Homo sapiens: one gene and its partners. The protein of the gene in region 2 purifies or fractionates together with the protein of the main gene of each other region. This does not show direct contact. Each region holds a gene or a part of one and is shown on either strand. Other genes may lie near its edges. The genes, in order: PPP2R5C, CCNG2 and NME2.

The links.
Region 1: the proteins of CCNG2 (region 2) and PPP2R5C purify together in Homo sapiens (affinity purification with mass spectrometry; 3 studies listed by BioGRID and IntAct, with this or other methods). This does not show direct contact.
Region 3: the proteins of CCNG2 (region 2) and NME2 purify together in Homo sapiens (affinity purification with mass spectrometry, with the first as the bait; 2 studies listed by BioGRID). This does not show direct contact.

What each region holds. Positions count from the first base shown.
Region 1 is NC_000014.9:101,925,640-101,928,566, reverse strand, and holds the end of PPP2R5C (serine/threonine-protein phosphatase 2A 56 kDa regulatory subunit gamma isoform), read right to left. Parts: 3' UTR 590-2,927; downstream 1-589.
Region 2 is NC_000004.12:77,167,197-77,170,708, forward strand, and holds the end of CCNG2 (cyclin-G2), read left to right. Parts: 3' UTR 1-2,864; downstream 2,865-3,512. UniProt on the Homo sapiens protein: May play a role in growth regulation and in negative regulation of cell cycle progression.
Region 3 is NC_000017.11:51,169,411-51,172,402, reverse strand, and holds the end of NME2 (nucleoside diphosphate kinase B), read right to left. Parts: intron 2,467-2,992; coding exon 2,354-2,466; intron 917-2,353; coding exon 799-916; 3' UTR 659-798; downstream 1-658. Other genes in the region: NME1-NME2 protein, read right to left, coding at 799-916, 2,354-2,466. UniProt on the Homo sapiens protein: Major role in the synthesis of nucleoside triphosphates other than ATP. The ATP gamma phosphate is transferred to the NDP beta phosphate via a ping-pong mechanism, using a phosphorylated active-site intermediate.

The DNA of each region.
Region 1 (2,927 bases), on a different chromosome or scaffold from region 2:
TCTGTCAGTGCGAAGGGAGCACAGACGCCACTGGGTAGAGAAGGAAGCTAAGCACAGAGCTTGCCCTCCCACGCCAGCCGGCGTGCTGACCACACGCAGCTATGGAGAGGTGAGGTTATAACCACGACACGAGCAGATAACACTTTAGTCCTGTTTCCATGGGCTTCTCGCAAGAGCATCAGCGAGGATAATGATCTCTCCACTGAGGAGGAGGTGGGCGAACTAGGATCCTAAATTCATACTTTCAGCAATTCCCTATTTTCAAGACTTTCATTTCTATAAATTGTATTGATTCACCTTTTCTTACTCAAAAAAAGCCCCAAAACCCAAACCAAACCAAGAGGCGGTCTATAAAAAGTCACACTGCCTTTTCCACTAAGTAAGTAAAAAAATCAGTGGATAGACTTAGCTTTGAACAGCTGTGGCTAGCATCTGGCGCAGCCAGCGCTCCAGGCGGGCTGGATGGAGATGGCCAGCCCCTCTGCAGTCAGCGTCCCTGTGTGTGGGCGGCCCTGACCTAACGGGAACCCGATAACGTCAGAGCCAGCTTGCTCAACACCATGGCTAAATTTAGTTTCATGATGAGCAATAAAATTCACATGTTCTTTATTTAGTCCATATGATACACCGTTTTTTAGAGTTTTTGAAAATTAGATAAAAGAGCATATTAAATGGCAAGTGTATGAAGTTTCTCTTCATAAACAATGTCAAAACAAAAAGTTTTGAATTACAAAATGTTAAAAAATATGTCGGTACTTAACATTTCACTAATGCATAAAGTTACAGATATTTTCTAAAGAAAAATAATTGTGCCACTTACCTATATTTGCTGTTTCTATGAACTTTTTTATTCTGTACATAGGACATTTTGTACAAAATATGAAGTCTACATTTTTATTACTTATTACCATAAAACAAAGATACAATGTATGTACAATATTAAAAGGAAGCCATACTAAAGCCACACTAAAAAGACACTTGGAATAGTGACATTTCTGATGTACAGATACATTTTGGAAAGAGTGAAGATGCCAAACGCAGAACTTTATGAAGAAAAACAGTCACCGGTTTATTTTCAATGTAGTACTTTTGAAATCAGTTTGGTACAGAATAAACAGTCTCTATACAATGATATGTAAGCTGACAATTAGCACAGGAGTCCGAGTACTAACTAGGGAAACTTTAGGAGGCCAAAATATTAAGTAATACTCTTGCCAAAGAAAATTAGTTTCTCTGAAAACTTTTATTTTTCTTTTTGGTGAGTGTTTGTCTTCAATAAAGAGCAGAAAGAAAACCTAGACAAAAAGATGTTCTTACACACTGAGCTTTACACAGTCACCCAAACATTGATATTTTGCTTTTTCCCGAGGGCAAAAAGAGAGTCTTCCCAGAAACCTCTCTCACAAACATACTGAACATCCAAAATCAAGGATATTTGAGAATCTATCAGCTAAAGACGGAAGTTCAAACAATGGTATATCAAAATACATAAGACGCTGCTTTATACAATAAAAAGCACCCTTTTTCCCTCAAAAGGAGAAGGCATCTAAACTGTTTTTTTTAATGATAGTTTTCATAATGGTAAAATGGAGAGATACTTGTCAAGTTTCTCAGGAAGTATTCATCTCACAAAGCGGACTTGTCCACTTTTAGCTGGGGCAATCTTCGCATTTCATACCTGCACTTGCTCTTACCACAAGAAGTCCCCTCCCCCCAGGTGATTTTCCTCCAAGACACGAGGACAGAAGCATTGCCAGTGGCTTGAAGTGACAGCAGTGGGCAGGAGGTACCAGAGCTGCACAAGGAGCAGTGTCTGCTTCTCACTATCTTTGAAAGGATACCCGAGACCTCGATGAAAAAACAGATCCTAAAATAAGCCACATTTTGTCTTTTATGCCTCAAGACACTTAACATTAAGTTATATAATCTTATGCCAGAGATGAAAGAAACTAGATCACGTGTTTAGAATAGCAGTACACATCTCAAGTAGCTTTCAAGCAGGATAAATAAGTCAAAATACTGGCCACCCTGAGAGAAATAAAGAATAGACAAAGCACTAAGTTTAAAGATTTTTCTCCTTGTGCTATTCCATCTAAAACAAAAGCTCAGTACATGCAAGGAACTCTGTGGAATATATAGCAGCATGTGAAGACCGATGAAAACTCAGACACTGTATTTTCCTTACAAGGTGTTGATAACGTGAGCTCTTTTCAACAGAAAGAGCTCCACTAAACGTCATCCTCGCTGGTGCCTCCTCCAAGCTCTCAGAACAGCACTGCAGCCTTCAGTGAAGGCAGCGGCAGTGCCGGCCCCGTGCAATGCTGTTGTGTTACTTTATGCTTAAAGGCGCTGCAGTTTGCATTAGGCTAAGAACTGGCTTAACTCAAAATGATTTTGCTCTAACTTTCCATAAAATGTGGAATTCTTAGAGACTATAATTTTATTAATTCAAGAGCCTTGTTGAAGGGCAACAATGTTTAAGTTGACGGAAACGAAATCTGCAAATAAAAATATTAACACATAATTTTAAAACTCCAATTTCTGTCAAGGTAGACAGAGCAAGCTCTTTTAAGATAAATTTCAGAGCAATCTCTTTTAAAATAAATCTCTTCTACAGGCTTACTCCTGGAATCCTGGAGTACCACAGACTTGGAAATATGGCTTTAGGTACACACAAGAGAAGGAGACACGGTGTTCATGTCACTCATCAAAGTGAAGAGACCCCTTAGAAAATACCAGCGGCTGAGGATTGTCATTTGCCCAGTACGTTGCGTGAGAACTCGAAAGCAAAGAGCCATTTCACTGAGATTGAAAAACAAACAAAACGAGAACTGCTGGCGTAACAATCACGTGGAAACCATTTCAAAGGCTGTAAAGTCTTAAAAAATAGGTCCTATTTTTTAAAGCGTTCCTTTGATTTGGAAAAC
Region 2 (3,512 bases):
ATTAATGAATTCTCCTTGTTTGGGATCACATCTTAATTTTTAATCTGTTAAAAGTTCTTGATGTATTTTAATGAGAAGACTTTAGGTGAGGCTACAGTGATTCCAGAGTGAGCCTTCTAACTGGCTAGCAGAAGTTCTCTAGGTTTGGCATCTGTGCCTTGGAGATACTGAAAGAGAATCTGTCATTTGACAATTGACCTCTTTGTGGGATGGACTCATTAAGTATGCTCTCAGAGACTGGTATATTACCAGAATGCCTATTAATTTTCAGTGAGAGGCAACAGGTATTAAGTAGAACAGAATGCTCAGGTTGGCAGATTAGAACGATCTTTCAGGAGACAAAGCAAGTTTTAATCAGTTGTTTGGTTAATAAGTATGGGGTGTTCGCTGTGATAGGGCCCCGCCAGCTTCTGGCTCTTGTGGACCTCAAAAGTATCAGGTGGTTTTGCAAGTGGTGGTCCTTTCCCCTGCCCCACCCCAATAGGTTCCCCATCTGTCTAGTTTGATTTTTGTAGACCTTTGTTTTCTCTAGTTAGAAAATCAGGTACACTGAATATGGTTTTCATGTAACACCTCTTCTCTGGAGATAGGGGTATGTTTTCCTACCCTTCTAGTGGAGAATCCTACTTGAGGATGACCTTTCCTCTCTTACTAAATAATATTAGTAAATAGTGGGCAATATATTCTGCTTTCAGATTTTGATTTGTTGAGATGTAAAAGTTGTTTGGGGCTTACCAAATCTCAAGACTCTCTTTAGCTCCTGCAGGATTGTATTGCTTTTCTTACTGGATATTTTTCCTGGGTAAGCATCTTTGTGGCTTCATCTCTTCCCCCTGTGGTTTTCAGTGTATTTAGTCGAGACCTCTCTGCTGAGCTTGCAACCTGTTTATTCACATGGCCTGCCATGCCACTTGGAGGTTTCTGATTACTCCCAAACCTGCTGGTTCTTTATGTCTTTCTCAGCGAATAATTCCATCTATTCATGTTGGAAACTTAGGTGATATGCTCATCTCCTTTTGCCTGTTTATGGAGGTCACCAGCCTCTATCATTTGTATGATTTCGTTTACACTGTTTATATCTCTCTGTCCCCCCTTTTTCTGCCATTGGCATGGTTTAGACCTGTACTCTTTATCAGCAGAGGTACTGTAATATATTTGTGATCCCTCAGCTTCCAGGCTTACTCCTGGTCTCTGCCTTCCTATCTACATATCCTTTTAAAATAAAATTTTAACTATCTCCTGAAAAATTGTTGAGTAGGTCACGCACAATCAGGAGAAAAATCTATTCATGACATACAAGTCTCTGTCTAATCTGAACACTGCACCTGTCTCTGGCCTTTTTTTCTTGTCATTTCCTAGACCTTAAAAAATGTGTATTGAGAAAGAACTCTGTTAGCTATACAGAAGATGAACTGGGCAATATAGAGTAGCAGCATGGAGACCAGTCTGACTGAACTAAGGCAGTGGAAGTGTGGATGAGGAAGAGAGGTGAAAATTGAGAAGCGCTATCCTTTCTCTTTGGGCATTATTAGGAGGCTCACAGACAAGTCCAGGAGCCTGGTTATACCCTCCTGTGCCATTCAACCAGGTGGCTTTCCCATGACTGTGATGAATAAAATTGAGAAGCCCCTGCCCTTTTCAGAGCAGAGGGTGAGGAGAAAGCTACCATTTTGTCCTCATCCTTACCCCCGTTGACTTGGCGAGAGATTTGACCTTTCAGGTTTTGATCCTGTCATTTTCTAGGATGTGGTGCACGCACTTTGCTGTTGCGCATGGTGAAGTATTGTGCCTAGGTCCTGGGTCTTCATCTGTTTGGCTCTGCTACTGTTTCCTCCTCCCAGGAAGTGTGGTTAGACAAATAATGTGTTTTAATTACCTGTCACACTCAGGATTAATACATACTCAGGTTAACTGTAGAGAGGCATTGGCTTCAGAACACTCCTCGTGACAATTTTAACCATTTTCTTTGTCTAGAGTCTGCCTTTTTCTTTTTTACAATTTCTTTTATTTCAACACTAGGTTTCAATATGGTGTTCCTGCTACCTCCCACCTCCCTCCTCCCTCATCACACATGCAAATTGTCAGCTTATTGAGACAACCCACTTAGATTCATATATGGACAAGGACAAGGTATTTTGCATTTGTTACTGGAATTCAGTTTTCCTAACTATTTACTACCAGAAATGGTCAATAACTTACTTTGTGTTTAGCAAATCAAATTGTGTGATAGATAGTTTCCCAGTATGATGGCCAGTCAGTCTTTCCATCCCTGTGCCTACATGCTGCTCTTCCCGTCCACAAGTGGAGTCTGTTTCTCTTGAGTTTTGGCTGGCCTTATGAATGGCTTTGCTTACTGAAGTGCAGCAGAAGAAATTTAGTATATGTCCAAGCCTAGGCTTTAAGAGACTGGCAGCTTTCCTTTTATCCTTTTTGGAAGCTAGCCACCATGCTGCAAAGAAGCTCAGCTGGATTACTGAAAGATGAGAGGCCATGTGGAGAGAGACTCTTGAGGATGAGAGATTATCTTGGATGTTCCAGCCTTAAGCTCCCAGCTGAATGTGGGTGTATCCTCAGCTACACCACAGAAAACAGAGGAACTACTCAGTCGATCCCAATCAACCCACAGACTCACTAGAAATAACAAATTATTGTTTTAAGCCACGAGGTTTTGGGGGAGGGTTGTTAAACAGTAATAGATAAGTGAGACAGATTGCTTGTTATTTATGGTCAAATGGTGATTATCTCTGGTGAGATTACAGGTGATGTTTTTTTTAAGTTATGCCTATCTGTAGTTTCCTTTTTTTCCTAAAATTGATTTGAATTATTAGTGTATTAACAGAATAAAGAATGAACTTTAAAACACACACGCTGGTTATATGCTTCCTCTAATTAAAATTCATGGCTCTCACCACACCTTAGCATCAAGTTCCAACTTCGTACTGCGGCTTAGAAGACCCAGCTTGATTTGTTCCCGGCTCCCTTTTCAGCCTTGTTTCATGGCATCCACATCCACGTATTTCCCAGGCCCACTACATCTGAGATGAGTCAGAGACCCCTCTTAGGGGCCTGTTCCCTACTCCCAAACATGGAAATTAAAAAAAAAATCGTGAGTTCTTCCAAGAGAAATTCCAGGCATCTGGCTAGCCCTGAGAAGTAAGAGAGAAATGTGATAAGCAACAAATAGCGGCTCAAAACAATAGCCAAGTAAGTTAGAATCATGGGATGTTTGGTTCCCCTATAGAAACTACAGATAACATCTTAATATATATCCCTGAGTTGTTTTCCAGAAACCTGAACCCCTAGCAAATGGATGCGCTAGCACATAGACCTCAGATAAGAGGGAGCTGAGGACTGAACTCTGACCACCGTTCTTTGTTCTAAATTTCTTCCTGAGAGGCCTGGAGGAGGTCATGCCCATGAGCCAGAGATTACATTTTTTTCTGTAGATTTCAAATGTTGAGACAAAACGTCATCTCCTTAACCAATCGCACACTAGAAAGTCTTTGAATCCA
Region 3 (2,992 bases), on a different chromosome or scaffold from region 2:
ATTTGTAATCAGCAGATACATAAATCTAGAGTATTTCCCTAGTCTGTATGTTTCACTCCAAGTTTCAACAAATCTTTCTTACAAGTGGCCAGGTGCAGCGGCTCAAACACCTGTAATCCCAACTACTCGGGAGGCTGAGGCACAAGAACCACTTGACCAACTAGGCTTGAGCCCAGAAGGTGGAGGTTTCAGTGAGCTGAGATCACGCCACTGCACTCCAGCCTGGGCGACAAAGCGAGACTCTGTCTCAAATAAATAAATAAATAGGCCGGGCGCGGTGGTTCACACCTGTAATCCCAGCACTTTGGGAGGCCAAGACGGGCAGATCACCTGAGATTGGGAGTACAAGACCAGCCTGACCAACATGGAGAAACCCCGTCTCTATTAAAAATACAAAATTAGCAGGGCGTGGTGGCACATGCCTGTAATCCCAGCTACTCAGGAGGCTGAGACAGGAGAATCGCTTGAACCCGGGAGGCAGAGGTTGTGGTGAGCTGAGATCGCGCCATTGCACTCCAGCCTGGGCAACAAGAGCGAAACTCCGTCAGGATCAGATCATTCTTTGACAAGCAGGATTGAGATGTACATAATGCTACTATAGCCAGAGAACCAAGTCACTTCTTTCAGCTCAGTATCAAATAAGCACAAGGAGACAGTGTCCGGCTTCCAAAAGCTTTATTGGCAAATATGCTCTATAAAAGAATGATCAATCCTGTTGCCTCTAAGTCAATGGAATGAAGAGCTGTGTCCAGGGACACACCACGCCGTGCTGAAGGAGACTGCTGTTGTGTCCACCTCTTATTCATAGACCCAGTCATGAGCACAAGACTTGTAGTCAACCAGTTCTTCAGGCTTAAACCATAGGCTGATTTCTTTTTCAGCACTTTTTACTGAATCACTGCCATGAATGATGTTCCTAAGAAAGAAAACAATTACAAGTTGCCATGTTTTAAAGTGCAAAAGTCTGTTTAATGGGTACCGCAATGGACAGCACTCCAGACTCTTTCAGCCAAATTGCCACTTGAAGCAACAGACCAATTTATACCCCCAAAGCATTTCCTTTTAAAAGCAGCTATACAACTGTAAAAGTGCTTGATTTAAAACATTCCTTGTTTCAACTGTATTATGCTTCCAAGTCTGGCCTCCCCATCAAAAGAGTGCTTGTACCCCAAGATTGCCGAAGACATAAAACACTCCTCCGCAAATTTTGGAAAATACAGTGATACTCAAACCCACTGCAGATCAACATCCCAACTAGATATGATGTGTTCATTATCATAGGCCAGCTCTGCTGCATTTTCTTATAACACTGATTTGCAAAGCCCAACCATGACATAACACTGCTTATTAATAAAAATCCCTTTATCCCACTTCAACCTCACAACTTTGTAAAGGTTTTGAACAGACTGTGTACAGGTGAGGGAATCAAAAGGTTAAGTGACACACCCATGGACAAAGTACTCATGGATGTGGCTAGAATGCTTCCCTTCTCCACACCTAGCATTTTTTGCTGTACTACACAGGAATTACCACTTATGGCTCCCTTGTTGTCTTGCTTAAAATTAAGTAACCTAGGGAAGAAGCTATGTGTGAAAGCTTTTTTTTTTTTTTTTTTGAGACGGAGTTTTGTTCTTGTTGCCCAGGCTGGAGTGCAGTGGCGTGATCTTAGCTCAATGCAGCCTCCACCTCCCAGGTTCAAGCGATTCTTCTGTCTCAGCCTCCTGAGTAGCTAGGATTACAGGCATGCACCACCATGCCCTAATTTTTTACTTTTAGTAGAGACGGGGTTCATGTTGGCCAGGCTCCAGGCTGGTCTCAAACTCCTGACTTCAGGTGATCCACCCATCTCGGCCTCCCAAAGTGCTGGGATTACAGGCGTAAACCCCTGGCCTGAAAGCTTTTATACAATGATATACCCAGCCTGAAAGTTTTTATACAATGATAATCACCAACTAAAAGTTCAGGCCAAGTGCGGTGGCTCATGTCTGTAATCCCAGCACCTTGGGGGGCCGAGGCAGGCGGATCACCTGAGGTCAGGAGTTTGAAACTAGCCTGGCCAACGTGGTGAAACCATCTCTACTAAAAATACAAAAATTAGCCGGGCGTGGCAGTGTGCACCTGTAATCCCAGCTATTTGGGAGGCTGCGGCAGGAGGATCGCTTGAACCCGGGAGGTGAAGGTTACAGTGAGCAGAGATGGCACCACTGCACTCCAGCTAGGCAGAAGGAGACTCCGTCTCAAGAAAAAAAAAAAAAAAAAAGGGCACAGATTCTTCTGAAAGTAGGATACGCCATGACGTCTGCTTTAAATGGTGTTGCATAAAAGTCATCCACCCTCCTGTCCCCGGACTTACCTGCCAACCTGAATGCAGAAGTCCCCACGAATGGTGCCTGGCTTTGAATCTGCTGGATTGGTCTCCCCAAGCATCACTCGGCCTGTCTTCACCACGTTCAGCCCCTCCCAGACCTCGAAAGTGTGAAAATGGATTTATAATCAGACCTGCCACTCAGGACAGGTAGGGTCTAACATTTACTCCTACCTGACACGACACATCAATGAGACCGATCAGTGACATGATTATCAGCTAACCCCAGCAGAGAGTAGGGGCCTATATAAAAACTGCATTCCAAACGTATTGCTAGGATTCAAAGAAAAGTCTGTCCAACTTGGGGACTTCCCAGTTTAGCTGAGACAGAGATAAACAATGTTGCAGAATCCTTATGCAGCCATCAACACAGAAGAACTGGTGAAGAAAGGAGAAAGTGGCCAGTCTGGAATAGGATCAGTGGGAAGGGCATCCCAGAAGACTGCTAGAAGAGGGAAAAGAAAGACTAACATGCTAGGGTAAGGATTCCAGGGAACAGCAGAAGGAAGAAAAAGGTGAACAGGAAATAGATCTACTTTCTCAACAATTTCACTGCCTCCCTATTTTACTCTCTCCAATTTTTTTTTTTTTTTTTTTTGAGACAGAGTCTTGTTCTGTTGCCCAGGC